6 separate regions of the Homo sapiens genome follow, and all the other regions are reported to be linked to region 1. The links are microRNA targets in miRTarBase. Many come from high-throughput screens and were not tested one by one. Region 1 holds a microRNA gene; each other region holds the end of a gene's coding sequence.

Region 1 (5,080 bases):
CTATAAAGTTCTTGGAAAAAAAACATACACCTAAATTTTTGTGACCCTAACTAGACAGTGGTGTCTATTCAATATAATATGGCATCGAAAGCGCAAGAAACAAAAGAAAACATAGATTAATTGAGCTTCATCCAAATTAACAACTTTTGTGCTTCAAAGGACACCATTGAGAAGTGAAAAGAAAAACCACAGAATGACAAAGTATTTACAAATCATATATCTGTTAAGGTACTAGTATCCAGAATAAAGAACTATTACAACTCAATAATAAAAAGACAACCAATTTAAATATGGGAAAAACCTCTGAAATAGACATTTCTACAAAAAAGACATTTCTCCAAGTACATGAAAAGATGCTCTACCTCATTAGTCATTAGGGAAATGCAAATGAAGTCCACAATGAGATACTACTTCACACCAACTAGAATGGCTAAAATAAAAAGATGGTCATTAACAAGTGTTGACAAGGATGTGGAGAAACTGGATTCCACACACATTACTGGTAGGAATGTAAAATGGTGCAGTGACTTGGAAAACAGTTTGATAGTTCTTCAAAATGTAAAATGTAGGGTTACCACATGACCTAGTAATTGCATTCTTAGGTGTATATCCAAGATAATTGAAAATATATATACACAAAAAAATGTGCACTTGATTGTTTCTGGTGGCCAAGAAGTTAAAACAAGCCAAAATGTGTCTAGGCACTCAAATATCTATAAATTGATGAATAGGTAAACAAAATGTACTATATCAATACAATGGAATATTATTCAGTCATAAAAAGGAAGATAGTATTGATTCATGCTACTATGAACCTTGAAAATATTATGCAAAGAAGCCAGACACAAAAGGCCACATATTGTATAATTGTACAATATGTAATTGTATAATTTCACTTACATGAAATTCTCGAATAGGCAAATCTATTGAGAGCAAATAGATCAGAGGTTGCTGGGAGGTGGGGAGGGGAGCTGGGAGTGACTGCTAATGGATATGGGGTTTCTTTTTGAGGTGATGAAAAGGTTCTGGAATTAGTAGTGATGGTTGCACAACTTTGTGAACATACTGAAAACCTCTGAATTGTGTACTTTAAAATGGTGAATTTTATAATATGTGAATTATATCTTGATTTTTTAAAAAAGAAACACTCCTAGAAAAGCATAAACCACACACCATGATAATCAGCAGCTCCTGGGAGGAAGGGCAAAACTCATTTTGAATATGTGGGATCTGGTGGATTTTAAGAAGATATATATTATATCTAATATCAAAACATGCTCATGCTCAGCCTTCTATGTTGACCTAATAATCAAATGTTTTATTCATTACATACATATTTGGCATTATTAGTCTTTCTTGTGGGACATCATATGATTGTGGTTATAAACAACCCTTAACACATTCTTGGTTTTCTTGATTATTCCTTTAGTATGCTAAGCGTCCCTCATGAAGATTAACAGTCCCTATGCACTTTTTTTATTTATTTATAAATAAAAGGTTACTTTGGAAGCTAGACACCATAATTCGTCCAGAATCTACTAGTGCACTGCTTGGTGATGTCTAACCTGAAAGCACATCTCATAGTCACACAATTTTGCATTGCTACCCACAGTGTGCAAAATTTTTTTGCTCTTGTTAAACGAAAAATGCCTGCTGACTGCAGAGCAAGTCATACTAAAAGAAGAATGAGTGATTTGAGAGAATGAGAGGTAAATCCCTGCCTAAAAGCTGACTTTGTGTCTACCGTGATCCAAAGTTTATACCTAAATCTAGACCTAAGAGAGTTTTTACTTTTTTTGTTTTGTTCCCCAAAGGATTTAAAGCTAGCTTAAAAACAAACAAAAAAAACTTGGTTAGTTTTACTTGTGAAATAACTTCATTTTCCTAAAAACCTCTATCCTCCTTGGACAGCAGTCTTGGTAGTCTTAAGGAGATTTAAAAAAAATTATCAGAATGAGGTTAAGTGCTAACTAATAGTTGTGTTACTAAGATTTCTGCCTTGCCTTGCCTTCCCTGCCTGCCAGTGTTTTTCAGTTTTCAAACTGCTTGAGGGTTTGAGACTCCTAAAAGCAGAATCAGGACGGTGGAGAGTTCTCAGTGGAGCTGGGAATTTCCCCGGGGTCTCTTCCAGGGAAGAACTGCTCGAGGATGAGTCCCACCATCTGTCTCTTAAACCCAAAAAGGTTGTGGCGAATTCTCGCACCAGCCTCCTTTTTCTCTCTACTTTTGACACGGAACGCTGCTCTTCCTTCCCTTGCTGAGTTTCTCTCAAATATAATAGGAAGATTAGGGTTGCTTCTGCTCCCTCCCTGAGAGATCTGTTGAAATATCCAGTATTTGGGTTTTGGTTTGGGGTCCAAATATTTAGTTTTGAGAGATACACTTTACCTTAGAGTTAAGTGCACCTTTTGCCCTGGGTTATGCCAGATCTCACTTTAGACCTTGGCCCTTAACTTACTGGGTCTCTCTTTGTATTTTTTCCTTCTAGTGCATAGATTTACTTTTAACTCCTCAAGGGAGTACTGCCAAGGACTTTGCCTTTGCCTACTGGAAGCCCAGGCAGTGGAGAGAGGCCAAGGCATCTAGTGGCTACTGGACAACATTCCTTGCTTAATGCTGGTCAAAAAATGGTTATAAATTTACTCTGATTTCAAATACATCACAGAAGCTCATCATTTAAAGAAGCCCTAAGAGGAGTCTTTTTGTAAAGTTATGAGTTTTGCTAATAGATTTTGTTTTGAAAAAGCAACATAGAATGCCACCACTTCACTTTTTGATTTGTATTTGTACCTATTGGGTCTTCTTAAAGGAGAGTTCACCTCCATTTAGAAAGAATGAGAACCTTCTGCACAGAGACTTAAAGTGTCAAAATTTTATGCCTTAATTTGGCGTCTGATCAGAATTTTATCTGTACTTGCTCAATTACGTAAGTCATCTTATCTCTTTGGTTTTGGAAAAATGACAGTTGTATACTCTTAGGATGGGATAAGATTTGGGCAACGTTCCTACAAGGGAACCACGAGCATTTCCTTTCCAAAAACTGGTCCAGCCTAGGGCTGGATCAGGGGGTCCTGGGGGGCTCCATTCCAGCCCAGTGAAGGCAGAATATCTTGTCTTGGAAAGACTCTGGGAAGTTAGTTCATTTCAGTCTGTGCTGTGAGCTAGCCAGCAGTGGCTCTGAAATGAACTCAAACTCTAGGGTCACTTCCTCTTGGTCTAACTTCTGGGGATACATATTAAACAAGTCATCCCAGTGGCTAAGCACAGACCCTGGAGGCAGACCACCTGTGTGCAAATCCACGCTCTTCTGACTGCTGGCTGCACAGCACCTGTGAGGGGGACTCAGCTGCTCACCTGGGCAGGAACACATCCATCCTGGCTCTCCTCAGGCTGGTGGTCCAGAGGTGGATGGTGCTGGCTGTGAGGTGTGGCTCGATGTGGCTCAGGGGGGTGTCTTTGTCACGGGGCAGCACCAGGAACAGACTCACTGCACTTCCCAGGTAAGGAAGCTCCAGCACCCCCACCTGATGGCCTGCAGTGTCCTGGAACTGACCTGAGGGTACAGTGGATCAGAGGTCAGCTCTGTCCCAGGAGCCAGGAGAATGAACCAGTGTCGGACCCTGAGAGAGGCTGGCTCAGAGGACTGGAAACAATAAAACCGAGCATCCACCTCACCCTCAGGAGGCGGTTTCAGGCCAAAGACTGTTGGGCGATATGGTCATTTTATAAAAATCCTAGACCTAGAGTCTTTAAGATACCCTCACAGGACCAGAGTTAGAGGTTCTCTAGGACTGGGTATGGGGGGGGGGACGATGGCACATGCAGAACCACATAGAGTAGTGCCCCCTTATCCTTGGCAGATATGCTCCAAGAACCCCAGTAGAGGCCTGAACCTGTGGATGGTAACGAGCCCTGCATATACTATGTTTTCTCGATCTGATGACTGAGATGGCTACTAAGTGACCAACGGGCATACTGTAGACAGCCTGGGGATGCTGGACAAAGGGATGGTTCATATCTCAGGTGGAACAGAGAAGGACGTCAGGAAATTTCACCACACTATTCAGAAGGGCGTGCAGTTTAAAACTTGAGAATTATTTGTGAAATTTTCCATTTAATATTTTCTGATGCGGATAACTGAAACCTCAAAAAAGCAAAATCATGGATAAGGGTACAGGGTACTACTGTACCCGATCTTAAAGGAGCAGCCATTCAATCCCGGCCTATTGTGCCTGCCAGGGTGGCAGTTTGGTCCAAACTCTACTAGTGCAGAAGGAAATGTCAGGCATGAAACTGAGTTTCTCTTCCACATCTGTGTCCTCACTGTCCTGTCAGAGCACACTGTCCCACACTCCTCTCTAAAGTCTCCGGGCACCTTAGTCTTTCCTTCCGCCATGCATGCCCAGTCCAGCAGATGGACCCTGCGGAAACACATCCCGATCCCTTAGGAGCAGGGACCTGGCCTCCTCTCTCCTGCCCTCAGGCCCAGGCTTCCTCTCCCTTTAGACAAACCAGCAGGGGCAGAGCTCACCGTAGTTGACCTCGGTCGTTTGGTGCATCATGGGGACCTGAAGGACGAGGCCATAGGCACAGGTGAAAGGCAGGATCTGTGTGTCTGTGGAGGAGAATCTCTTTCGCCAAGTGCCTTGGAAGGACATGGTGCTCACAAGCACAAGCTGAGCAAATGCTGCACTGACTTGCTCCCACGGCCAGCCACCAGGGCCCTCACTGGGGCCCCCACCTGCAAGCAGGAAAGCAAGGTGGCCATGGGTTAAATGTGCATTGAAACTGAACCGAACCCAGTGTGTGTGCGGACAAGGAGTGCAGAGTTAAAATGCGAAAATGCAGGTCTTTTTGCTTAAGGTGGTCTCTCTCTTCATCTTACAATATCTTTTTAGTCTACTTAAGAATATTTAATTCCCTGTCTCAGCTCCTTGTGCTGTCAGGGACCCAAGGCACCAGGAGCTGCTCTCAACTTTTGGGGACTGTTGAGCGATATGGTCATTTTATAAAAATCCTAGACCTAGAGTCTTTAAGATAACCTCACAGGGCCAGAGTCAGAGGCTCTGTAGGGCTGGGT
Region 2 (5,022 bases), not on the chromosome of region 1:
AAGGGTAGGGGACCTCAGGGATCTTGGACACGTCTCCTTGCCCTGCCCTGTCCCATAATCTACGAAACAAGAGCTGATTTTATTGCTTTCAATTTGACATGGTGGTGTAAGTTCTATGAACAGATGAGACCAGACAGTTATTATAGATGAAACATAAAGGAATCTAGGACTTTTTTCCATAACCTTTCCTCTCAGTACATGATCATCCTTGGTTTGGTCTTCATCTTCCAATTTGTAATCTCTTGCTCATGTCTGGCTATTAACCGAAGCAAACAGGTAAGACAGTACCCTTTCAAGTACTTACTTGCTTTTTAAAATTTTCCTCTTAACCTCGAACTCCTTCCTTAGTCTGGCCCCAACTACCCAAAGATCATCCTTAGGTGCACTGCTTCTGGCCTCTTGGGCTATTTGCTTCCTCTGGGATGTCTGGTTAATTTTCCATGAGGATGATCTAGAGAACCTCAAAAGGTAGATATTTATCGTGTCTATAATTGTTGCACACCGTTATGCTTCTGTTTGACTTCCTTTGCTGGGCTAGGGAAATTGAGGCACTTGAACTGATAACAGGATGTAGGGAGACTTAATTTCCCTCTACCCATATCTTTCAGACAGATGTCATCAATGCTTCTTGGTGGGTCATGAGCAACAAGACTCGGGATGAACTGGAAAGAAGTTTTGATTGTTGTGGCTTATTCAACCTCACAACCCTGTATCAACAAGATTATGATTTCTGCACTGCAGTGAGTGTGTTGGGGGTGGTGCAGCAGCCAGGGGAGGTAGGAAACTGGGTAAGGACAATGCCCAAGTTGGCAAATTTAGTTTGAATGTCATTGTTTCTCTCTCTACAAGCCCTCTTGTATTGGGGCTGTGTTGGTGGGAGGTGGGGGTGGATAGAGGCTGGGGAATTAGCCAAGTAGGATTTTAGTTTGTAGGACACTGGTCAGATAACAGTAAAGTTTCTAGGGACATTCGGCATAGGTATTAGTCACTAGCAACTTTACATTCACAACTTTGCATTCTTCACGTTTTATCCTCAGATCTGCAAGAGCCAGAGCCCCACATGCCAGATGTGTGGAGAAAAGTTTCTTAAGCATTCAGACGAAGCCCTGAAAATCCTAGGGGGTGTTGGACTCTTCTTTAGCTTTACAGAGGTAACATTCTCCAGTTCCCTCACACACATCCTTTTTGAGACTGAGAATTAATTGATACTTATCTCTCTCCCTTTGTTCCTACAGATCCTTGGTGTTTGGCTAGCAATGAGATTTCGGAATCAGAAGGATCCTAGAGCCAACCCCAGTGCCTTTCTATGAGACTTTGGATCCTTCTGACTTTTCTTCTGCTCTCTCTAAGCTTTCTCTTCCTCCCTTAGGGAATATCTAGGGTCTGTAACCGTTTTGGTTTGAGAAAAAGGAAAGGCCCCTTGTCACATCCTCTAAAATTGATGGAATAGCAAGACTTTATGCCTTGACATATTTTAGTGGGAGCCAGACTATAAGGAATAAAAGGAAAAACTTTCTTCCTCTCTCTCCAAGAGGATATGGGAAGCTTCTGTGAGTGCATAGGATGGGGGCTGGAGTCATTCTTAGCTGTTTCCCTTCCTCTGTCCATATACTGGATCACCTCAACATACCCTGGTGTGGCTCTAAGGGTAAATCAGGGATAGGGCCAAGGAGAAAACAACCAAGAACTCTTTCCTGTAATAAGCAGGATCCAGTTTGAGAAAGTTTAGCGAATATAAAAGTAAAAGCCATTTAAAAATCTATATTCTTTTTTTTTTTTTGACACAGAGTCTTGCTCTGTTGCCCAGGCTGGAGTGCAATGGCATGATCTCGGCTCACCGCAACCTCTGCCTCCCGGGTTCAAGCGATCCTCCTGCCTCAGTCTCCCAAGTAGCTGGGATTACAGGTGTGCACCACCACGCCTGACTAATTTTGTATTTTTAGTAGAGACAGGGTTTCACCATGTTAGTCAGGCTGGTCTCGAACTCCTGACCTCAGGTGATCCACCCGCGTTGGCCTCCCAACGTGCTGGGATTATAGGCGTGAGCCACCACGCCCCGCCTAAAATCCATATTCAAAGAAGCAATTTCAGTTCCTTTCTAAGCTTTGTCAGTCAAGGGGCTCCACTGACTTCCTAGGCCCTGTAATTTAACCAGTCTTTAAGGTTTTGCAGGAAAGTCCCTTCTTCCAAGTGGTTTTTCCAAATCGCACAATGGCAAAGCCAAACAGAGGAAGAAACATTAAAAAAAAAAAAAAGACCATTATTTCTTTGTTTTGTTTTTCCTGTATAAAAAAGGACCCCAAATATAAAGGTAGGGAAAGGGACAAGAGGGAACATACCCCTTAGTGTAGAGAAATGGGAAGGAGAAGGAGAAGCCTCAAAAGGAGAGGTGGGAGGGGAATGTCATTAAGGCAGCAAAGTAATCTCTGTAGAAAGATGGAGGAGGACCCTCCATAGCCTCAGAGATAAAGGCAAAGATTGCCCTCTCAGTGTCCAGAAGGGAAATGGCAGCTTTTCTTCCTTCCATGGCAGCCACTCCATTGCTCACTCCGGATTACCTTCATCCTTATGTAGATAAGAGTGCTGCAGAGCTCGAAAGGCAGAGATTCGCTTGTGTGGGTTAAAAGTCAGCATTTCCTGAGGGGAGAGGCAAAGGTCAGAAAACCATGAAGAAAACAGACTTCTGCCCACCCACAACAATACCTGGGATGAGCTTTCTTCTTTTTTCTTTTTTTTTTTTTTTGAGACGGAGTCTCGCTCTATCACCCAGGCTGGAGTGCAATGGTATGATCTCAGCTCACTGCAACCTCCGCCTCCTGAGTTGAAGTGATTCTCCTATCTCAGCCTCCCAAGTAGCTGAGATTACAGGCGTGTGCCACCACCCCCGGCTTATTTTTGTACTTTTAGTAGAGACGAGGTTTCACCATGTTGGCCAGGCTGGTCTCGAACTCCTGACCTCAGGTGATACGCCCACCTTGGCCTCCCAAAGTGCTGGGATTACAGGCGTGAGCCACCGTGCCCAGCCAGGATGGGTTCTCTTCTATATCCTTCTCTGTGGGTGGCTATTTGCAGCTGTAATAAAAACTACAGCCCATCTACCAACCAAGTTTCATTAACCACAGTGGCCAGGGCCCTGCATACTGCTCTATTTCTTTCCCCAGTCTCTATTTCTTTCCCTGTGCCCACAGCCATCTCCAGTACCAGCAGCAGCTGTGCTCCCGACTCCTCCATCTCAGGTACCACCGACTGCACTGGGCGGGGCCCTCTGGGGGGAAAGGCTCCACGGGGCAGGGATACATCTCGAGGCCAGTCATCCTCTGGAGGCAGCCCAATCAGGCTGTGGGGGACAGGAGAACTCTGGTCAGGAGGGTCCTCCAGTTCCCATCCCCATGGGCAGAGCCAGTTGCCATCCTGGGTTCAGCAGAAAGAGGACTCAGAATAGAAAATCTTTTTCTCCCATGTTGGTCACTTACTCAAAGATTTTGCCCAACTGGTCGGCTTCAGAGTTTCCACAGAAGAGAGGCCTAAGGTGAGAAGGGATATAAGGTAGCAGTCATTTTCAAAGATATCTTAGTTGAATGGTTACTGCTTAGTGGCTCAAAATAGGAAGTATAGGGAATAAAGGCCAACAATTCCAGCACTTTGGGATGCTGAGGTGAGAGGACTGCTTGAGCCCAGGAGTTCTAGATCAGCCTGGGCAAGCAAGACCTTGTCTCTTTTTTTAAAAAAAAAGAAATGCCAGGTGCAGCGGCTCACGCCTGTAATCCTAGCACTTTGGGAGTCTGATGTGGGTGGATCATGAGGTCAAGAGATCGAGACCATCCTGGCCAACATGGTGAAACCCTGTCATTACTAAAAGTACAAAAATTAGCTGAGCATGGTGGCGTGCACCTGTGGTCCCAGCTACTTGGGAGGCTGAGTCAAGAGAATTGCTTGAATCTGGGAGGTGGAGGTTGCAGTGAGCAGAGATCGCACTACTGCACTCCAGCCTGGCGACAGAGCAAGACTCCATCTAAAAAAAAAAAAAGCCAGTCATGGTGGCGTGCACCTGTAGTCTCAGCTACTCAAGAGGCTGAGATGGGAGGATTGCTTTAGCCCAGGAGGTAGAGGCTACAGTGAGCTGTAATTGGGCCACTGCACTCCAGCCTGGGTGACAGAGTGAAACCTTATCTCAATAAATAAATAAATAAATAAATAAATAAATAAATAAATAAATAAAAAATAAAGAGAATAAAGGGATATGAAGTTCCTAATTCCAGAACATTTCAGAGCTTTCTGCTATGGGCAAGTTAGTAGTACGCAAGTAAAAGAATGGGGCCAGATGCAGTAGCTTATGCTACTTTGGGAGGTAGGGGTGGGAGGATTGCTTGAGTGCAAGAGTTCAAGACCAGCCTGGGCAATATACTGAGACCCCATCTCTATAAAAATATTAACAAACTAGCCAAGCATGGAGGTGCGTGCCTGTAGTGTCAGCTAGTTGGGAAGCTGAGATGGGAGGATCACTTGAGCCCAGGAGGTTGAAGCTGCAGTGAGCTGTGATCATGCCATTGCAATCCAGCCTGGGCAACACAGCAAGCCCTGGTCTCAAAAAAAAAGAATGGGCAAGGTATGGATGTGGTTTATGAACAAGCGATTTGGGGAATTCAAGGTAGTCCAGGGTATGTGGGTCCCATACTTTCGACGAAACATCTCTGCAAAGATACAGCCAACACTCCACATGTCCACAGGTGTTGCATATGTGGACTGCAGAAGAACTTCGGGAGCTCGGTACCAGAGTGTAACAACCTAAAGGGAATAGGAAGAATGGATGGGGACCCCATGGGTTACCATGAAACACAACTTGCTTGACTGAACACATGAAGCACATGACTTCTCAATTGCTACGGGCAATCACTCTCCTACTCCCAACCAGAACCCATTTTGGTACCATCTTTCTACTGACCACGGGTGTAAGTGCCATCTGGTAGCTGTAGATTCTGGCCAGGCCAAAGTCAGCCAGCTTGACTGTTCCACCACTTGTCA
Region 3 (4,355 bases), not on the chromosome of region 1:
CTACACCCAAGCCCCCCAGTGCCACCAGCCTTTGCCCCAGCTCCCCCTGAGCACAGCCCCTCCTGGCAGCCATGTGCACAGATGCACATGCAGCAGCCTCTGCCTGCACACAGAGACACAGACAACCCAGTGCCTGTCCACGTGGGGCAGCCCGTTAACTACAGAGCCAACAAACAAGCCAGCACACGAAGACGTACTGGGTTCCACGACAGAGTCCCCCCACAACCTCGCACAGGAGGCTGGCCGGGCGCAGGGCTCAGGCCTGTCATCCCAGCACTTTAGGAGGCTAAGGCAAGAGGACTACTTGACCCCAGGTGTTCAAGACCAACCTGGGCCACATAGTGGGACCCCATCTTCACAAAACATACAGAAGCTAGCCAGATGTGGTTGCACACGCCTGTAGTCCCAGCTACTCAGGAGGCTGAGGTGGGAGGATGGCTTGAGCCCAGGAGATGGAGGCTGCAGTGAGCCCTGATCTCACCACTGCACTCCAGCCTGGGCAACAGAGCAAGACCCTGTCTCAAAAAAGCAAAGAAATAAAAAATAAAAAAAAAAAAAGGAAGTCTTTCTTCAGATACTTACGTGAAAAAAAACCTGCAATATATTTTAAGTGAAAAAAACAGTGCCAAGCAGCACACATAGTATAAGCCCCCACCCACCTTTTTTTTTTTTTTTTTTTTTGAGACAGAGTCTGGCTTTGTATTGCCCAGGCTGGAGTGCAGTGGTGCCATCTCGGCCCACTGCAACCTCCCACCTCCCAGGTTCAAGCTATCCTCCCATCTCAGCCTCCTGAGTAGCTGGGACTACAGGCACGTGCTACCACACCTGGCTATTTTTTGTATTGTTTGTAGAGTTGAGGTTTCGCCATGTTGGCCAGGCTGGTCTTGAACTCCTGACCTCAAGTGATCTGCCGCCTCAGCCTCCCAAAGTGTTAGGAATACGGGCGTGAGCTACTGCGCCCAACCCCATTTTTGTTTAAAAACTAATAATAATCACCCACACATGGTTATGAGTACCTATATTCCCAACTCCTCAGGAGGCTGACGCGGGAGGATGGCTTAAGCCCAGGAGTTTGTGGCCACCTTGAGCAACATAGCGAGACTTCATCTCAAAACAAAATTTATCACAATAATCATTTTCACATAAGTATACCTATAGGGGAAAACCTAGAATATACATATAGCAGTCTTGTCCAACTTGCGGCCCAACGCAAATCTGTAAACTTTCTTCAAACAGTACGAGGTTTTTTTGTGATTTTTTTTCTTTTAGCTCATCAGGTATTGCTAGTGTTAGTGTATTTTATGCGTGGCCCAAGGCGATTCTTCTTCTTCCAGTGTGGCACAGGGAGGCCAAAAGATTGGACATCCCTGATATACACATTAACAGGTGCCATCCTTGGATGGCAGGATTATAGAGATTTCTACACATTCATGTCTGTACTACTTCATTCTTATAAATACGCATTTTCCACTCGTAACAAAAAACTGTGATTGAAAATCGTCCCGGGTCACAGTGTCTCACGCCTGTAATCCCAACACTGTAAGAGGCTGAGGCTTTGGGAGGCTGAGGTGAGCAGATCACGGGAGGTCGAGTTCAAGACCAGCCTGGCCCACATGGTGAAACCCCATCTCTACTAAAAACACAAAAATTAGCCAGGCGTGGTGGTGCACGCCTATAGTCAAAGCTACTCGGGAGACTGAGGCAGGAGAATCACTTGAACCTGGGAGGCGTTGCAGTGAGCTGAGATTGTGCCACTGCACTCCAGCCTGGGGAACAGAGTAAAACTTCGTCTAAAAACAAATAATAAAAGAGGCTGAGGCAGGAGCATCACTTGAGGCCATGCGTTCAGGACCCCATCTCTACAAAATAAAAAAATTACTGGCATGGTGGCACGCACCTGTCATCCCAGCTACTCAGGAAGTGGGAGGATTGCTAGAGCCCAGGAGTCGAGGCTGTAGTGAGCAATGACTGTGCCACTGCACTCCAGCCTGGGTGACAGAACAAGATCATATCTCAAAACAAAAAAAAAGAATCATTCTGGCTAACGGCTCTTCAGACATCTGTGCTTATGAGAACAGCAGCCCCTTCTAAGCTGTGTGTGTGTGTGGGTGTGTGTGTGGTGCGTGTGGTTTTTTTTTTTTTTTTTTGAGACTTAGTCTCACCCTGTCACTCAGGCTGGAGTGCAGTGGCACAATCTCAGCTCACTGCAACCTCCACCTCCTGGGTTCAAGCAATTCTCCCACCTCAGCCTCCCAAGTAGCTGGGATTACAGGCACTCGCCATCATGCCTGGCTAATTTCTGTATTTTTGTAGAGATGGGATTTCACCATGTTGGCCAGGCTGGTCTCGAACTCCTGACCTCAAGTGATCCGCCCGCCTTGGCCTCCCAAAGTGTTGGGATTACAGGCATGAGCCACTGTGCCCGGCCGCTTTCTAAGCTTTGTGAAGAGTGGGTTGACTATTCAGATCTCTGCTTCTGTCCCGCTGTGCCAAGTGCTGGGGCAGACACAGGCAGAGAGTGGACAGCGGCACGGTGCCTGCTGCTAGCCATTTCTATGCAAAACCAGCTTTCTGGTCCCATCCTGGAGGCCAATTCTAGGCACCTGGGTGGGCCTGGGAACCTGTGAACCAAGTAAACTGACTTGGACACCCCCCTACCCCGCCAGGCCTGTCCTAGCAGCCCCACACAATACCCTCATGTCCTGTCCCCAAACACCGCCATCCTCAAACACATGTGCTCTGTTTCCAGGCCGGGCCGGGATCAGATGGGAAGTGGAACCTCGTCATGAGCAGAAACTGTTTCCCTACGAAGAGCACTTGGAGATGGCAATGCTGAATCTCACCCTGTAGGACTCACACACGACTCCAACGGGATTGTGAGAATCAAGTCACTCTCATGGGAAGAATTTTTATATGGGAAAGCGGATAAAACTTTCATTGGACTGGAATGTTTGGAGAATGTTAATTTCCAAATCAGGAACCACAAACTGCCCTCTAATAAGACATCGGCTATCTAAGCGTGTGGGTGCCCCCTTTCTGCCAGCAGTTCTGGTTCTTAAGAAAATCACCATAAATCAGACATGAAAATTCTGGCTCCAAAAATAGCATTTTCTTTGTGCAAATAAAAACGTGTGTATCAAGTATGATGTTCCCCCAACGTGGACACACTCAGTTCCTCACAAAGCCAAGCCCACTGCAGCTGCCACATCCCTGGGCTTACGGTGCAGCAGGTGCTTTTTTCAAGACAGGAATCAAAATGTTAGGAACACGGCAGAAAGGGGACACCTGGAGACCAAACGCAGGATGAGGAGTTCTGCAGAGGTCACAGGGAAGTCACAGAACAGTAATACGCTAGCAGGGGCATGGGGCGTGAAGAACAGAAGAAGAGAGGAAGCGTTTCCAAGCCTCCAGAGAAGAAATCAAGGCCAACCAAAGCTTCCCGGGTCACAGAACCAATTCTTTTACCAGGCAGTACCACTGCTGTCATTTCAGCTTCTGGCCACTGGGAGGTGCTGCTCGAAAGGGTTTGCCCTGAGACTCCAAGAAGAAGCTGCGGGAAGGACAGCAGGGGTCCTGGGGTTTTAGCCTCTGGCCCAGGAGTTATGTGTCCATAACCAAAGGGAGCACAGTCTGCACCCAGCTCTCATCCCATCGGAGCTGCTGCGACTCCCGCAGGTTCTTCCGGAACTGGTTTAGCTTGCCCGCAGGATCAGGAAAGTTTGAGAAAAGCATCTGCAAAAAAATAAAGAGCAGAGCTTACCTCATTGCCTGTCCCCACCCCATCCCAGGTCACCACCTGGCTGACCCCAGGTCCCCGACCCAACAACAACCCCTCCCAAGTCCCTAACTCCCTCACTTGGACTCGAGACCCTTCACACCCCAGCAGCACTCCGCCTCCAACTTGACATCACAGTTTCTGGAAACTTCCCCGCATGTCCCACTTTCCCACACTTGGTGCCCTGGAGCACCTCCCGGCCTCTACGTGCTGCCCATTCCCCTGTGAGCACCCTCCTCTCGGCCTCTGGCCAACGCAGTCTCACCCATCTGTGGGTAACAAGGGGGTGTCGGTGTTCTTTGCAGCCTTGCTAAACTGTCTGAATCAAGGATCACAAACTACAGCCTGCAGGCCAAATCCAGCCCACAGCCTGTGTTTGTAAATAAAGTTTTATTGGAACAAAGCCACACCCCTTAATCTACAGATGATCTGTGGCTACTTTCACACCCCAACAGAGTACCATGGTTCTGACAGAGACTGGGGAACCCAGTCTAAACGACTTCCGACCTGGACCTTTACTGAAAATCCTGCCAATCATTCTGTTGGCAAGAATGATGTATTACTTTTTGCAATAAGAAAC
Region 4 (4,907 bases), not on the chromosome of region 1:
GAGAAAGCTGATGAGTAGTTGTCTGCAGTAAGGGCATGGAGAGAGGGAAGGGCTAAAAGGGTCTGAGGAGACTTTGAGAGGTGATGGTAATGTTCTGTATGTTGATTATTGTGGTGGTTTCTGTCAAGATTTATCCAATTGTATGCTTTAAATGGGTGCAGTTTATTATATGTGAACTATAGCTCAATAGTTATAGACAAAACAGAAAAATTGGTATTGTTTCAAGCTTGCGTCTCTTCTCATCCTTCTCATCAGCCTTACTCATGATACCTATGTTATATGTTAATAACTCTCAAATCTACTCCAGATTCTCTGAAAGCAAATTCATGTTACTGCCAACCTGCTATGCATCCTCGGCTGCATATTCCACAAGCTCCTGAAACTAAAAAAATGTTCCGAATTGAATTTATCAATGCCACTCCCAACAGGAAACAAACCTTCCCTTTCTCTTCCCTGATTCAGAGAGTGATTGAGAAATTGCCCAAGCCAGGAACTTGGAATCATCTCACCTGACATCCTCTGTCACCTCTGTCTAAATACCCTGTCTCTGTTTAGGCCTCATTTCTCACTTGGATTACAGTCTCCTCTCATCCTTCCCCCTCTGGAGTGTCTTTCAAACCTTAAATTATCATTTCACCCTCTGCCTAAGATAAGTCAGAGGCTTGCCCTACCTTCAAGATGGAGTTCAATACCCACAAAAATTAACAATTAATAAAAAGATGGAGTTCAGAGTCCTCACTGGGCATACTGGGCTCAGTGGCCCCTTCTCATGATAGCTGTTTTCCACACAGCACTATCACCCTGCCACCCCCTACATTCTGTGGAAAAACGTCACTGGTACCCTAAGGTGGGACCTGCATGGCCATGTCATACCATGCAGTTCCCTCAGCTCCTTAACTCACTGACACTAGAGAGAACCGCAGAGTTAGCTGGGTCTATCACACAGTCTTTTTTCTGTTAATTTGAAACAGAAAAGCCAAAGAGGATGTTTTGGCCTTAATCTGTACAGACAACTTTATGTATTCTTCTATATGATGTGTTAAAAATTATATCCAAAACTAAAAATATTCTTGGAAAACGCACAGAAAAATGTAAATGTTCAACTTTTTTTTTTTTTTTTTTTTTTGAGATGAAGTCTCCCTCTGTCACCCAGGCTGGAGTATAGTGGCGTGACCTCAGCTCACTGCAACCTCCACCTCCGAGGTTCAAGTGATTCTCCTGCCTCAGCTTCCCAAGTAGCTGGGATTACAGGTGCCCACCACCACTCCTGGCTAATTTTTTAATATTTTTAGTAGAGATGGGGTTTCACCATGTTGGCCAGGCTGGTTTTGAACTCCTGACCTCAAGTGATCTGCCCACCTCAGCCTCCCAAAGTGCTAGGATTACAGGTGTGAGCCACCGCACCTGGCCAATGTTCAACATTTTAAGATAGGAAACTCTGCTAGAATTCTGCTAGAATGTAGGGCAGAGACAAAAAGAAATACAATAACTTGTATTCGAATACAAATTCAAAACAGAGTATTGCAATCAATCCAGCTGTTCCAACATCCAATTAATAGGAGCTTCCAGCTTCATTTTCCTACATAGCACTCATTACCTTCTAATGTATCATTTACTTCATTTCTTTTTTGTTTTTTATTTTTTTGAGACGGAGTCTCGTTCTGTTGCCCAGGCTGGAGTGCAGTGGCACAATCTCACTGCAACCTCCATCTCCTGGGTTCAAACAATTTGTCCCTGCCTCAGCCTCCCAAGTAGCTGGGATTACAGGTGTGCACCACCATGCCTGGCTAATTTTTGTATTTTTAATAGAGAAAGGGTTTCGCCATGTTGGCCAGGCTGGTCTCAAACTCCTGACCTCAGGTGATCCGCCCACTTCGGCCTCCCAAAGTGCTGGGATTACAGGCATGAGCCACCACGCCCGGCCATATCATTTACTTCTAACATTGTTATTGTTGGTCTTCCCTAACTAACACATAAGCTCTATGAAAACAGGAATTTTTGTTTTATTGGCAGTATTCCCAATGCCTAGAAGACTACTCCATAGACAACAAGTACCGGATAGTTATTTGTTGAACGAATGAAAGAATGACTCCAAAGTTCTGAGATTATCTTGGGCCTATACTTTTTAGACCCAGTGGGTTAGTCTGTCTTTGGATCTCTGTAATGGAACACCCGAGACTGGGTAATTTATTTTAAAAAGAGGTTTACGGTTTATGCTTATGGCTTACGGTTCTGTAGGCTGTACAGGACGCATGGTGCCAGCATCTGCTTCTGGTGAAGGCCTCAGGAAGCTTACAATCAGGGCAGAAGGTGAAGAGGTAGCCCGATGTACCACATGGCAAGAACGAGAGGAAGAGGTGGGGGAGGTAACACTTTAAAAAAATTTTTTTTGAGACAGTCTCGCTCTGTCCCCCAGGGAGTGCAGTGGTGCGATCTCGGCTCACTGCAACCTCTGCCTCCTGGGTTCAAGCCATTCTCATGCCTCGGCCTCCTGAGTAGCTGGGATTACAGGCGCAAGCCACCACACCCGGCTAATTTTTGTATTTTTAGTAGAGATGGGGTTTCACCATGTTGGCCAGGCTGGTCTCAAACTCCTGACCTCAGGTGATCTGCCCGCCTCAGCCTCCCTAAGTGCTGGGATTATAGGCATGAGCCACTGTGCCCAGCCAACACACTTTTAAACAATCATACCTCATTTGAACCCAGGACAAGAACTCACTCATTTCTGTGAGGATGGCACCAAGCCATTCATGAAGGATCCAGCGGTATGACCCAAACTCCTCCTACCAGGCCCCACCTCCAATCCTGGGGATTACATTTCAATGACGGACTTGGAGGGGACAAATATCCAAACTATATTACCTGGCAAAGCTATAAAGTGTGAAGACAGAATAGATTTGCAGATATGCTAAGATGCAGTGAGTTCTCCCCAAGTACTCCTTTTAGTAAAAGTCATTTGAGATTGCAAAATGCCTTATGGAATAAAGGGAAGAGTGGAACTAACCCGAGATTCCAAACAGAAGAAATTCCTGGATGACAGTTGTGCAGTAGGTCAAAGTTATTGGCCCCCCTTAAAAGGGGACATCAGTGGCCTCCAAAGAAGAAAAAAATGGACTTCATTCAGTAGAATAGGCTAGAATTTCTTAGTAAATAGAAAGCAAAATATTTCTTCTCTCAGAAAGCAAACAAAATTTAGAAATTCTGGGGAAAACCACAGCAAATCTAAGAAATCATAATCCAAATAGGGATCAAACCAACATGCGGCATGATGGAATGTAAGAAAGTAACTCTGATTCTGTCCTTTGGAATGTTTTCCTACAAGTGACATAGGGACTGACTGGGACACTAGCACCCTAGAGAAAAATGTCATCCTACCTGGCTTGGACTGGAACAATATTTACATCATCACGGCTGTGTAAATGCTTCTTAGGAGCTTTCAGCTTTGACAATCAACTTAGTGACAAAAAATATGATAATAGGCCAGAATATAATCTCTTTTTTTTCCTGAAACAGGGTCTTGCTCTCCCACCCAGGCTGGAGTGCAGTGGCATGATGAGAGCCCACTGCAACCTTGAACTCCTGGGCTCAAGTGATCCTCCTGCCTTAGCCTCCCAAGTAGCTAGGACTACAGTCACACACCACCATGGCCCAGTAACTTTTAAAATTTTTTGTAGAGACAGTCTCGCTATGTTGCCCAGGCTGGTCTTAAACTCCTGGCCTCAAGTGAGTCTCCTGCATTGGCCTCCTAAATTTAGCACTGGGATTACAGGTGTGAGCCACTGTATCTGACCCAGAATATACATTTTACCAATCTTGATAATATAAAAATAAAAATACAAAAATGACCAAAGGTATATTAATATATTGATTCTTTGAAAATGAGAATTGAGACATGGGCTAAAATTAAATACATCAACAACAAAAATCTTGTAAGGAGAGGTTAAAAGCAGTTATCTTCAAAAAGTAGGTCTGAGTTTATAGAGTGGAGGTAACTTATTTGTTATGAGCTCTTTAGGATAAGGTATATTTGTTTCATTTTGATCCTGCATATACATTACTTTAATTATGAGAATTAGGTTCAGGAAACACCTCTTAAGGAAGTCACTTAAAACACATACACACTCACACAGAGACCTCAGGAAATCACATTTGTATTAGCAATATTTTAGCCAGTACTTTCTGCATCTAGATTTATTTCCTTTATGATCATTAAGATTCTCACCTAAACAAGCTGCCAAAATACATTACCTCTGATTTTATTTAGATTCTAAAAGTTAGGATACAAAAAGCACATAAACATCTACAAGTACCAAAACATTTATGACCTTATAATTTTATAGTGCAAGAAAAAGGACAAAGACAGGAATACAAATAAATTATAATCTAAAGAGTTACATATAAAATGTCCTTGATTATTTGTTAAAATCTGCTAGAAAAGTAACAGGAATGTTATCAAGCCTTTCTAGACATTTTGAACACAATCTGACACCGTTGCATTTCCTGGTTGTATCCTCAGCTTAACAGGCACTGGAGACAGCCAGCTTCTTCAAATGGTCCATGAACACCTGCAGGCTAACATCATCAGTTAGGATGGGTGCTCCAGTTTCCTGAAATGTAATGATAAAGATTAGTTGGCAGATATCTTAGAAGCTGATTAGAATTCATGAGCTGTCAAGCACCTTCCCTCAGAACATTCACAGGTGTTGTCCCCTCTGCTACGAGTACTCCCATCACCCCATCCTCTGCCTCACGAACAACTTCTTTTGACTAAAGCACAATTTCCTCACAAAATCCTTTCCTGGTATGCCGAGATCAGGCCACCACCGCCTGCTAGTTTTGAGCATCAGGCGTTTTACTTTACCCTCTTCTCCATAGTCCTGATGAAGTACCCAGGGTCTAGCTCCCCA
Region 5 (4,902 bases), not on the chromosome of region 1:
AATAAGATAGTTTCAAATACATGATTTTATGGGTTATTATATTATGTAAACACTTAAACTGGCCAAGTGTGCAGTGAACTCTCTGTACACTTCAGCTGAAGGTAAGACCTTAAAGGAAAATGTCCTTAATACTCAAATTTTATTCTTATTGAAAAAGCAAAGAATATATTTGATTTCCTACTAGTGATAAAATAGTCAATGTTAAGTTTCATTAACAGTGTGAAGATTGTCATTTTTAACCTGCCACTGAAATTGAGCCTAATTGAGCTTTTTTTTTTTTTTTTTAATTAGTTTGCAGGTCGAAGTAAGAAGGAAACCAAATATTCTCTTAAGGCTGTCGAAGACATGTTGGAAACATTGCAGATCACCCAGTCTTAAGGTTTCAAAAACTCTTTGACATTAGATTTCACAACTGCACAATTGAACTTATTGGCCTGTAACTTATTTACTAAATGCTCAGTGCTATTTATATACTACAGTAATTTTCTGTTAAGAAGGCAGTTGTAAAGAATGTGTTTATATAAACCTAAAAATGCCTTTTACTGCTAAGTGGGGAGATGGGGGAAATCCATGGAAGAGAGATTTAAGACTTATTGATTGTACATCAGTCTCTTCATATCACATATACATGTATATATATAAAACTCTAATGTAGTATAACCTTGTTAAATAAACCATGATGATTTATTAAACTTGCATATGAAGATTCTAACTTCATTTTGTTATACTCACAGTGGATATATTGTTTAAGAACTCAGTTTCTAGTTAACTCCTTACTGGTGATAGCAAAGTCACAGCATATGTAGCTGACCGAAGCAGATTATTTTGACTTTGTTTATATTGTCGAATTGGATTTTGCTGTACATTCCAGTGGGCTATTTGAATTGTTTTATCTGCTGTAATATCCTTCTGATGAATCTTGCTTAAAATATGTCATTCTCCAAAGTTCAGCAATATTTCTTTGTAAAATTTTTGTTTTGATATAGGACATAATTGAGATTTTTACATATAAAATGCCTTAAGATAAATATGTGTTACGACACTTTAACTTTTATGCAAGTTATATTTATTGAATCCTTTAATAGTAAATTACATGAAAGAATATTAAAGAATCATAAAGAGTAGGGATTAAAGGGGTTGTAGTTATTTTTAATTTTGAAAAAAATAAGAAAATTAAAACTATCCTTAGAAACAAAAATGTTAAAATTTTCCTATTCTATCATTACCTTAGTTAGAATTTTTTATTTTTCTCTTTTCATAATAAACAACCATTATGCTACCTTCAACAGTATTTGACATGTTTCAACAAAATAGAAGAGACTTGAAAGTTAAATTTCATTTAGACACAAATCAGTTTTTAAAATAGCAACTGTTCACCGCAAATATTTATGGTATTTGTTTATAATAAATATATTTAAATTTATTTTTACTAAAAATATACAGAGGCATCTACAGACTTGTCATTGCTGCTTTGGACAAGTGGGGATTGTGGAGGAATTGACAATCTAGAAGTGTTTAGAAAGAAAAGTATTGTCAATATCAGCTTCTTTTAACCTTTTGAATAGTTCTGCTAATAAATTATTCTCCATATCTAGTCTAATCTTTCATATTACAGTCATTTTCGTTTTATTCTGCCACGAGTAATAGGCAGCTGATTAATATATTCTGTGAAAGAACTCTTCTCATCTGAAGGTAATTCTCTACTAATCTTTATTACCACAAAGATCCCGTCTTTGTACACATGAAATTAGTAACTGCATTTTCAACATGATGAACCATTTGAAATTTACATTTTCTGTAAAGAAAATAGTGCCTGCACGTTGTTTCACTACCTTTTCCCCTTCAAACCTCCTCCCCGTCAGTCACTGGATTAGTGTTTACTCTAGCAATTATATTTGTGTAATAAGTAATTCAGTGCCTCTTATAGCTGTCTGCCTTAGTTTCACTTTTTTTTTTTTTTTTTTGAGACAGTCTCGTTCTGTCACCCAGGCTGGAGTGCAGTGACGTGATCGCAGCTCACTGCAACCTCCTCCCGGGTTCAAGCGATTCTTGTGCCTCAGCCTCTGAGTAGCTGGGACTACAGGCATGTGCCACCATGCCTGGCTAATTTTGTATTTTTAGTAGAGATGGGGTTTCACCATGTTGGCCAGGCTGGTCTGAAACTCCTGGCCTCAAGTGATCTACCCGCCTCAGCCTCCCGAAATGCTGGGATTACAGGCATGAGCCACTGAGCCTGGCCAGTATCACTTTATTTTTTCAAAATTTTAATAACTTCTTTCCAAGATTTTATATTTGTTAAGCACATTGCCAATCCTTAGTTATTTATAAACTTCAACTTAAATGTACTGATAATCCCATTACAGCAGGCAGTTGCCTACAGCTATTACCTTTATTTCTTCTTTAGCAGTACCTTAGTTTGATCTGATAGTGGCAAGGATCCCTCTTCCTCAAAGAGATTAGGACCTTACCCCAACTCCAGAGGTTGCACCTTCATTGATCTGAAACAGAAGTGGTAGTTTAATTCTGTATAGTCTGATTAGTACGAGGCAGAACTTTTTGCAGTGAAGGAAATCAACCATCCATTCTGTCTCTCTATTGTGGTAGCTACTAACCATATGTGATATTGAGTACTTGATATGTGACTACTGCAATTGAGAAATTGAATGAAATGAACAGAACCCTACTGAGAAGGGCTTTCCTTTCAAATTAAAAAATCAGAGCTTTGTGTGGTAACAGTCATTGCCTCTTTCTCCTCTTTCTGGCCAACAGCATGCCTAAAGGTGCAGCTGCCATCAAACAACCATGAAACAGCAAATGTGAGAATGAAAGTTACATTTCAGAGATAGAACTGAAGGAGGATTAAGGGGATCCTGGGTCCCTGATATGGCATTGTTGAACACCCAAATCAAGATGAGCAATTGCCAAACTCCCCAATTATTAAATGAGAAAAAATAAACTCCAGATTGTTTAAGACACTGTTTGGTTTCCTGTTACTTTAGCCATGTATGTTTCTGACTAATATATCTGCTTATCTACTCTTCAACATTTTTTAAGTGTAAAACTCTTATTTTAGACATGTCAGGGATGCTATTTCAGAATCTAATCATTTAAAGCAAGGAGATAATTCCATATAACGAAAGAAGTAATGTCTTAGTGCAGCTCAGCTCCTAGCATTCTAAGCCAACAGAGGTGAAAAGGGGACATATTTACACAGCTTAACCATAAAAATAATACTGATTTGGGGGCACAAGAGGATGTAGAGAAAAATATAAAGGGAAGACCAGTATTTTAGTATGCTGCAAGCATATACTTCAACTTTTTATTGACAAATATTTCAATTAATCTTTTTGTCTTATATACTGTAGCCCACATATCATCAAAGTAACTTCATTTTAATTCATTTCATAGAACCATAGGATTTTAGACAGGACTTTGGAGATGATTTTGTTGTACTTCATTTTAAGATGAGGATATCTGAGGTTCAGATAAATTAACCTCTTGTGTTACAGAGCATGGACCAGACCCAGGATGTCAGGGGTTTCCAAGTCAGCATTTTTTCTGGTATCCTCTGCTGCATCTGGCTATCTTGTGATGTTCTAATTTTAGAGTGACAAAAATGAGAACCAGTTATATGCAAGGATCATAGCTTGTTAGCAGATCAGGGATTATAATTCAGATGTTCTGATTTGTAAAACAATTTTTAATTAAATAAAAAGGTAAATTATATTTTAATTTAAATTGTGTTTAAATTATTTAAGATGTTATTTCATTTACAGTAAATATGAGAACGATTTCAAAATATTTAGAATATAATATAATGCCATTTTGCTCCCTCCCCCTCTGCCCCCATCGTTAAAACTCTTGCTGTTTTCCATTTATTGGCTCTTAACATGGCCTTTGAGGGTCTATATAGTATCAGAATCAAGGAGAGAATTTAGATTTCTTTAATTGTAAATGATGTCCTTCCACTTTCCCACACTTTGAATTCAGGTACACTTAAAGTCCATGAAGTTGTTATACTTCCTTCTTCCACAAACATTCAGCATCTACAAAATAATATATGATGAAAGACTAAATGCGTTCCTCTTAAGATTAGGAACAAGATAAGGATATGCACACTCACCACTCCTATTCAGTGTAGTACTTGATATCCAGTGCAATAATATAAGAAAAGGGGATAAAAGGCACAGAGATTGGAAATGAAAAAATTAACTTTATATTTGCATTTAACATTATTTTCTACATACAAAGTTCTAAGAAATCTCCAAGAACTTACAAGAACTAGTGAATTTAGTAAGATCACAGAATACAAGATCAACCACACAAAAATCAAATTGTATTTCTATATGCTAATACCATTTACAATTTCAAAATGTAATACTAAGTATAAATCCAACAAAACACCTACAGGACCTTGATGAAGAGTCAAACTCTAAAATATTGAAGAGATTTATTTTGAGCCAAATATGAGTGACTAATGGGCTGTGACACAGCCCTCAAGAGATCCTGAGAACATGTGCCTAAGGTGATTGGGTTACAACTTGGCTTTATACATTCTAGAGAGACGTAAGACATCAATCAATACAGGTAACATGTACATTGATTTAGCTTAGGAGAGTGGGACAACTGGAAGTGGGGACTTCCAGGTCATAGACAAATCCAAAGATTTTCTGATTGGGAGTCGGTTATTATTGATAGATACTGGTGTCTGGGATATGATAAGGGGTTGTGGAAACCAAGGTTTTATGCAGATGAATCTTCCAGGTAGCAGTCTTCAGAGAGATAATAGATTGTAAATGTCTAGACTTAAAGAGTCTGAAACATAACCATTTATATGGATTGGAAGACAATATATTAACTAAGTTGCCCCCAAGTTGATTTATGGGTTTAATACAAGTCCTA
Region 6 (4,867 bases), not on the chromosome of region 1:
TTGTACAGGCTGGAGTGCAGTGGCTGTTCACAGGTGCTGTTTTCTCACACTGCAGCCTCAAACTCCTAGACTCAAGCAATTCTCTCACCTCAGCCTCCTGAGTAGCTGGGACAACAGGCGCATGCCACTGCACCTGACTAGTCATGAACTCTGAAAAAATATTTTCTCCTGTTCTTTTTTTCTCTCTCCTAGCCTTCTAGTCCTTCCATTACACATATGTTGGTATGCTTAATGGTTTCTCACATTTCTCTGAGGCTCTTTTAATTTCTCTTCACTCTTTTTTCTGTTTTTCAGATTGTATAATTTCTGTTGTTCCGTCTTCAAGTTCACTGGTTTTCTTCTCCTAACTCAAATCTACTACTGAGCCCCTCTAGTGAATTTTTCATTTCATTTAGTATACTTTTCAACTTCAGAATTCCATTTGATTTATTAAAAATAATTTTTATCTCTTTATTGGTTTGTTTGGTGAGTAAAGTCATCTCTTGGTATCTGTGGGGGATTAATTCCAGGACCCCCTACAAATACCAAACTCCATGGATGCTCAAGTCTCATATAAAATGGCATAGAATTTGCATATAACCTATTCACATCATTCTGTATACTTTAAATAAATCTCTAGATTACTTATAATAATACCTAATACAATGCTTACACATCACTTCATTTGCATGGATTCAACATAGTACTCAGCATGTGGAAGATCCAAGTTTTGCTTTTTGGAACTGTGTCAACTTTTTTTTTTTTTTCCTAAATACTTTTGATCCACAGTTGGTTGAATCCACAGATGAGGAATCCATGGATATGGAGGAACAACTGTAATTGTTCCTTTACCTTCCTTTTTTAAATATGATTTCCTTTAGTTCTTTGAACAAACACATTTATGTGTTCAGCCAGTGTTTGGTCAGAGGTTCTGCTTAAGCACTTTGAGCTAATAAGATTTCTGCTCTTTGCTGATGGATCTGTGTATGCCTTAGAGAATGCTTTCAAGTTTGTTTCACATCTGATTGCTCCTGAGTGGATACAGCCCTGTCCATACATACTTCCCGAACCTCAAGGATAAACCAGATTCCAGGAGGGCTCTTCTTGGCTATCTCTTTCTCTGGTTTTCTGTGTTAAACTTCTGGCTGGTCTGTCATTTTGCTTTTTGCTACTAATAGCATGGAGTTACCAGCCCCTTCCTTAATGGCTCACTGGTAAGATGTCTTATTGTTTTTGACAATCCCCTTAGGCAAAGATTTCTCGTTCTCCGTACCAAATACCAGTCCCCTTGGGCATAACTGCTGGGTTACCAGTCTCAGAGCCTGGATCTCCTCTGGGGGCTGGACAGCAGCCTGCTTCTCCAGGACTGACATCCCTTCTCTGTGAGTGGGTTGATAGCCGCTGGTCTTCTCAGATTGCCCCTCCCAATGTGGAGCCTCCGCACTAAGCAGGCTAGGGTAGGGGCAATTGGAGCTCTACGATTCTCAGCCTGTCGCACCTGGGGCAAAGCCCTAGACTGGTAGCTGGAGGAAGAGAGACCCCTTAATTTTTGGCTGCATTGGTCCAGAATAGAGTTTGTCACATGAAGCTGGGGAGTGGGGATGGGATAGGATGAGGCTGTGGCTCAAATGCCACAGACTCACTGTTCTTTCTAAGACTTAGTAGTGGATTTTCCTGAATGAATGTTTATTTGTTGTATGCTTCTGGGGAAATTTTCAGAGACTTTGTGTTGTGTGGTTTATATACAAGTAATTTCCTTCAGTAGGAAGAGGGTCGGTCAGCTAAGCCCTGCAAACCACTATCTGTAAAGTCCTGTCAGTCAATGCTTTTAGCCTTGGCTGGGCTGCTTGGAGTCTGGCCTAAGTATACACGGTTCAGTTGTCAGCCAGAAATTTCTAAGTTCATGCGACGAACTTGGGGCTCTCCTTTTCAGGATTTTCTTCCTCACTTTCCAGAGGCTGTTTGTCCCGAACTCTGGCCTCTGGTTCCTCAGGCCAGTAAGACTGCAGGTTTCCTAACAGAGTTTTAGATCCCTGGCGGGGGCCTGCCATTGGATAAAAGGCCGAAACAGGAAAATCACCCAGTGTCGTTCTCTTCTTCCAAGTGTCTACTGCCCTCCAATATCTGCCTGCTTTGGATCGTGCTCCAGTGTTCTTAACAATTAAATAAATATTTTGTCCAGAATGACTGTTAATTTGGAGGAGAATTAGTCCAATTGGAGCTATTTACTAGAAGTGGAATTCCCCCTAACCATTAATTTTAGAATGGGTAATTTAAGGTTGGGAGAGTCTATGGTTTTAATGAGGAACAAGTAAGATGTTCCAAAATGAAATTTGGAGTGCTTTTACTTTTATATTATGAAGTAGAAAACAGCAAAACAACTAACAAAGGATGAAATTATTCTTTTTAAGCAAAACCTCAAGTCAACTATAAAACCAAAAGACTCATTCCAGACATTATCAAACATTCTAACAGTGACTAACACTCAGATTAAGAAACTGATTTCACATATGCTCAGCATATATCAGACTTGATTTCCACCAAATTTTTCTGTTGCTCAGCCTATCATTTTATTATATTGCATTGTCTTAGAAAACTAAGGACAAAAAGGTCACTGATGCTCCCATTCTAAAGAGAACTGTGCAATGTTCTATCCCATACATTGGCTCCGTGCTTCCCAACTGTATACTGCTATCTGAGATTATTCCACAGACTACTGCCACACTAGTAGCTCAGAATGTTATTTTTACTGTAATGACTGTGTGTCTCTCCTGCTTTACTGCCCTTTTCAGAAACACTGAAGGCTCCCAGTGTGCCCTCAGTTGCGAGGGTGTTGAGAACATAAAGATGAACAGGATGTCGTCTCTGGCCTCAAGTTGCTTATGTCCTTGTGCAATCTTTCACTTTATGGAAGTCGGTGTAAGATGTGGATCCATAACACTGGGACAGAGCCGATAAGCTCTGCCAAGAAAAATGACCTGAAAATTGGCTTCACTGTCAGTTTATGTTACTGTGTCAAATGCAGAGGATTACATTCCAAGAGAAAGAGTATGGGAAAGACAGAGAAGGTAGCTGGGTGCGGTGGCTCATGCCTATAATCCCAGCACTTTGGGGGACCGAGGCAGGTGGATCACCTGAGGTCAGGAGTTCAAGACCAGCCTAACATGGTGAAACCCCATCTCTACTAAAAATACAAAAATTAGCCGGGCATAATGGTGGGTGCCTGTAATCCCAGCTACTCAGGAGGCTGAGGGCAGGAGAATCGCTTGAACGCGGGAAGTGGAGGTTGCAGTGAGCTGAGATTGTGCCATTGCACTTTAGCCTGGGCGACAGAGCGAGACTCTGTCTCAAAAAAAAAAAAAAAAAAGGGAGAGAAGGTAGCAAGGAAGAGGTGCCTGGTGCTGACTGAAGGCTTTTTTTTTTTGAGACGGAGTCTCTTTGTCTTCCAGGCTGGAGTTCAGTGGTGCCATCTCAGCTCACTGCAAGCTCTGCCTCCCGGGTTCATGCCATTCTCCTGCCTCAGCCTCCCGAGTAGCTGGGACTACAGGCGCTCACCACCACACCCGGCTAATTTTTTGTATTTTTCGTAGAGACGGGGTTTCACCATGTTAGCCAGGATGGTCTTGATCTCCTGACCTCATGATCCACCCGCCTTGGCCTCCCAAAGTGCTGGGATTACAGGCGTGAGCCACCGTGCCCAGCCGAAGGCTTCCTTTAAAGGGTGTGATGCTGTTCCAGTTGGCAATGCCCCAGGCCATTGGAACATTGGAACTGCACTTCATACAGTGACCATGGGACCATGCAATAAAGTGTTACTTAGACTCAGTGCCTCGACCTGTAATCATGATTTCACACTCTGTGCCTGGCAAAAGATTCTGTTCTGAATAACTTTATTGCAAGTCACATAATCTTGGTTTAGACTTGACGCAACGGGAGGTTACAGAGCTGTAAATAACAACTGGTCATTACCTTATTGAGTTTAGAAAACTTTCAAGTTCGTGACATATGTTAATTGCACTTAAATAGACAGTGAGAGAAAGATTTATAAAGGCATCATTCAAAAGGATTTTTACATTTGGGTGTGCCTTACTCGATTACAAAAATTTCAAACCATCTTCCCACCTAGGGCCTAGGGCGAGTTTTCTCTTTCCCTGGGACTGAACTATCACAAAGCACTAAAGGGTTTAAGCAAACGTGAGTATCACTGAAAAGCACTAGAAGAAAGTCTCAATGTGGCTGGAAGAAACCAGAAGGCAAGATTGCCTGGGTGAGAAAGAAAACATAAAAATCTGTGTGTGAGATCACAAGCAGCAACTTCTCTGTGTTGAATTCAGATGTCTTTCCCACAGTCGGGGCACAGGATGTCGTCCCTCTCTGTGAGGAAGCCACGCCCCACCAGTGAGAGGGAGCACTTCTTACAGTTAAAGCAGTCGTTATGCCACTGCCGTTCCTCAAAGGAGATGTATTTTGTGCCACCAAGTCCTGTTAACAGAGAGAAAATAATACCGGATGAAGAAAGTTAGAATCAGGCAACTGGGACTGAAGAAGGAATTCTGGTTTGATCCATTTCAAAGTTTGGATTGTGTAATATGGATAATGTGAATTTCTAGTGACTGGGTGTTGGGAATCCATATGTAAATCAGATTCTATGCACAGCCTGGAGGATCTCGTGAATATCAGAAGAGATATATAAACTGGTTCCAAAACGATGGGATAAGTGCGATCAAAGAATGCTGACTGTGTATTTGTTATGTGTTTTCCCACAAAATGAAACTCCATGAGAAGAGGGAGCAGATTTCTCTTATGTCTTCACTAGGTGCCTCACGTTGCCTGGTGCTCAAATTTTTATGACTTAATGATTGAAGCAGTGAAGGGAGTGTAGAAGAGG

The links. Region 1 holds the annotated microRNA hsa-miR-5693 (GCAGUGGCUCUGAAAUGAACUC, at 3,169-3,190, shown strand). A microRNA usually pairs through its seed, bases 2 to 8, with sites in the 3' UTR of a target mRNA and lowers its output. Matches are read on the target gene's strand: a 7mer-m8 pairs with bases 2 to 8, a 7mer-A1 pairs with bases 2 to 7 and ends in A, and an 8mer does both.
Region 2: miRTarBase lists TSPAN31 as a target of hsa-miR-5693. Seed matches in the 3' UTR shown: 7mer-A1 at 2,123-2,129 and 7mer-m8 at 4,131-4,137.
Region 3: miRTarBase lists ALG1 as a target of hsa-miR-5693. Seed matches in the 3' UTR shown: 7mer-m8 at 2,184-2,190.
Region 4: the mRNA of SEC23B is a reported target of hsa-miR-5693. The part of its 3' UTR that is shown has no 7-base or 8-base seed match.
Region 5: miRTarBase lists EMC2 as a target of hsa-miR-5693. Seed matches in the 3' UTR shown: 8mer at 2,224-2,231.
Region 6: miRTarBase lists FHL2 as a target of hsa-miR-5693. The part of its 3' UTR that is shown has no 7-base or 8-base seed match.

What each region holds. Positions count from the first base shown.
Region 1 is chr13:51,346,686-51,351,765 of GRCh38, reverse strand. MIR5693 (microRNA 5693) reads left to right here and starts at 3,127; the gene lies at 3,127-3,199. It overlaps SERPINE3 (serpin family E member 3), which reads right to left. Exons shown (of 10, transcript NM_001386375.1): 5 at 4,532-4,741; 6 at 3,355-3,553. It also overlaps a transcript of INTS6 not described here.
Region 2 is chr12:57,745,981-57,751,002 of GRCh38, forward strand. It overlaps TSPAN31 (tetraspanin 31), which reads left to right. Exons shown (of 6, transcript NM_005981.5): 3 at 196-276; 4 at 609-740; 5 at 1,038-1,151; 6 at 1,236-4,239. The coding sequence ends at 1,310. It overlaps CDK4 (cyclin dependent kinase 4), which reads right to left. Exons shown (of 8, transcript NM_000075.4): 4 at 4,943-5,022; 5 at 4,676-4,785; 6 at 3,474-3,524; 7 at 3,202-3,337; 8 at 1,747-2,637. The coding sequence ends at 2,545. It overlaps MIR6759 (microRNA 6759), which reads right to left and starts at 2,702; the gene lies at 2,638-2,702.
Region 3 is chr16:5,084,127-5,088,481 of GRCh38, reverse strand. ALG1 (ALG1 chitobiosyldiphosphodolichol beta-mannosyltransferase) reads right to left here. Exons shown (of 13, transcript NM_019109.5): 13 at 1,103-3,732. The coding sequence ends at 3,601. It overlaps EEF2KMT (eukaryotic elongation factor 2 lysine methyltransferase), which reads left to right. Exons shown (of 8, transcript NM_201400.4): 8 at 2,750-4,198. The coding sequence ends at 2,850. Among named protein-coding and RNA genes, the nearest start is that of EEF2KMT, 11 kb to the left of the region's middle. RefSeq lists an enhancer at 3,342-4,254.
Region 4 is chr20:18,560,351-18,565,257 of GRCh38, reverse strand. SEC23B (SEC23 homolog B, COPII component) reads right to left here. Exons shown (of 20, transcript NM_006363.6): 20 at 3,843-4,607. The coding sequence ends at 4,518. Among named protein-coding and RNA genes, the nearest start is that of SMIM26, 4.6 kb to the left of the region's middle.
Region 5 is chr8:108,486,221-108,491,122 of GRCh38, forward strand. It overlaps EMC2 (ER membrane protein complex subunit 2), which reads left to right. Exons shown (of 11, transcript NM_014673.5): 11 at 292-2,976. The coding sequence ends at 378. Among named protein-coding and RNA genes, the nearest start is that of EMC2, 45 kb to the left of the region's middle.
Region 6 is chr2:105,356,974-105,361,840 of GRCh38, forward strand. FHL2 (four and a half LIM domains 2) reads right to left here. Exons shown (of 7, transcript NM_001318895.3): 7 at 3,853-4,461. The coding sequence ends at 4,310. It also overlaps a transcript of C2orf49 not described here. Among named protein-coding and RNA genes, the nearest start is that of C2orf49, 22 kb to the left of the region's middle.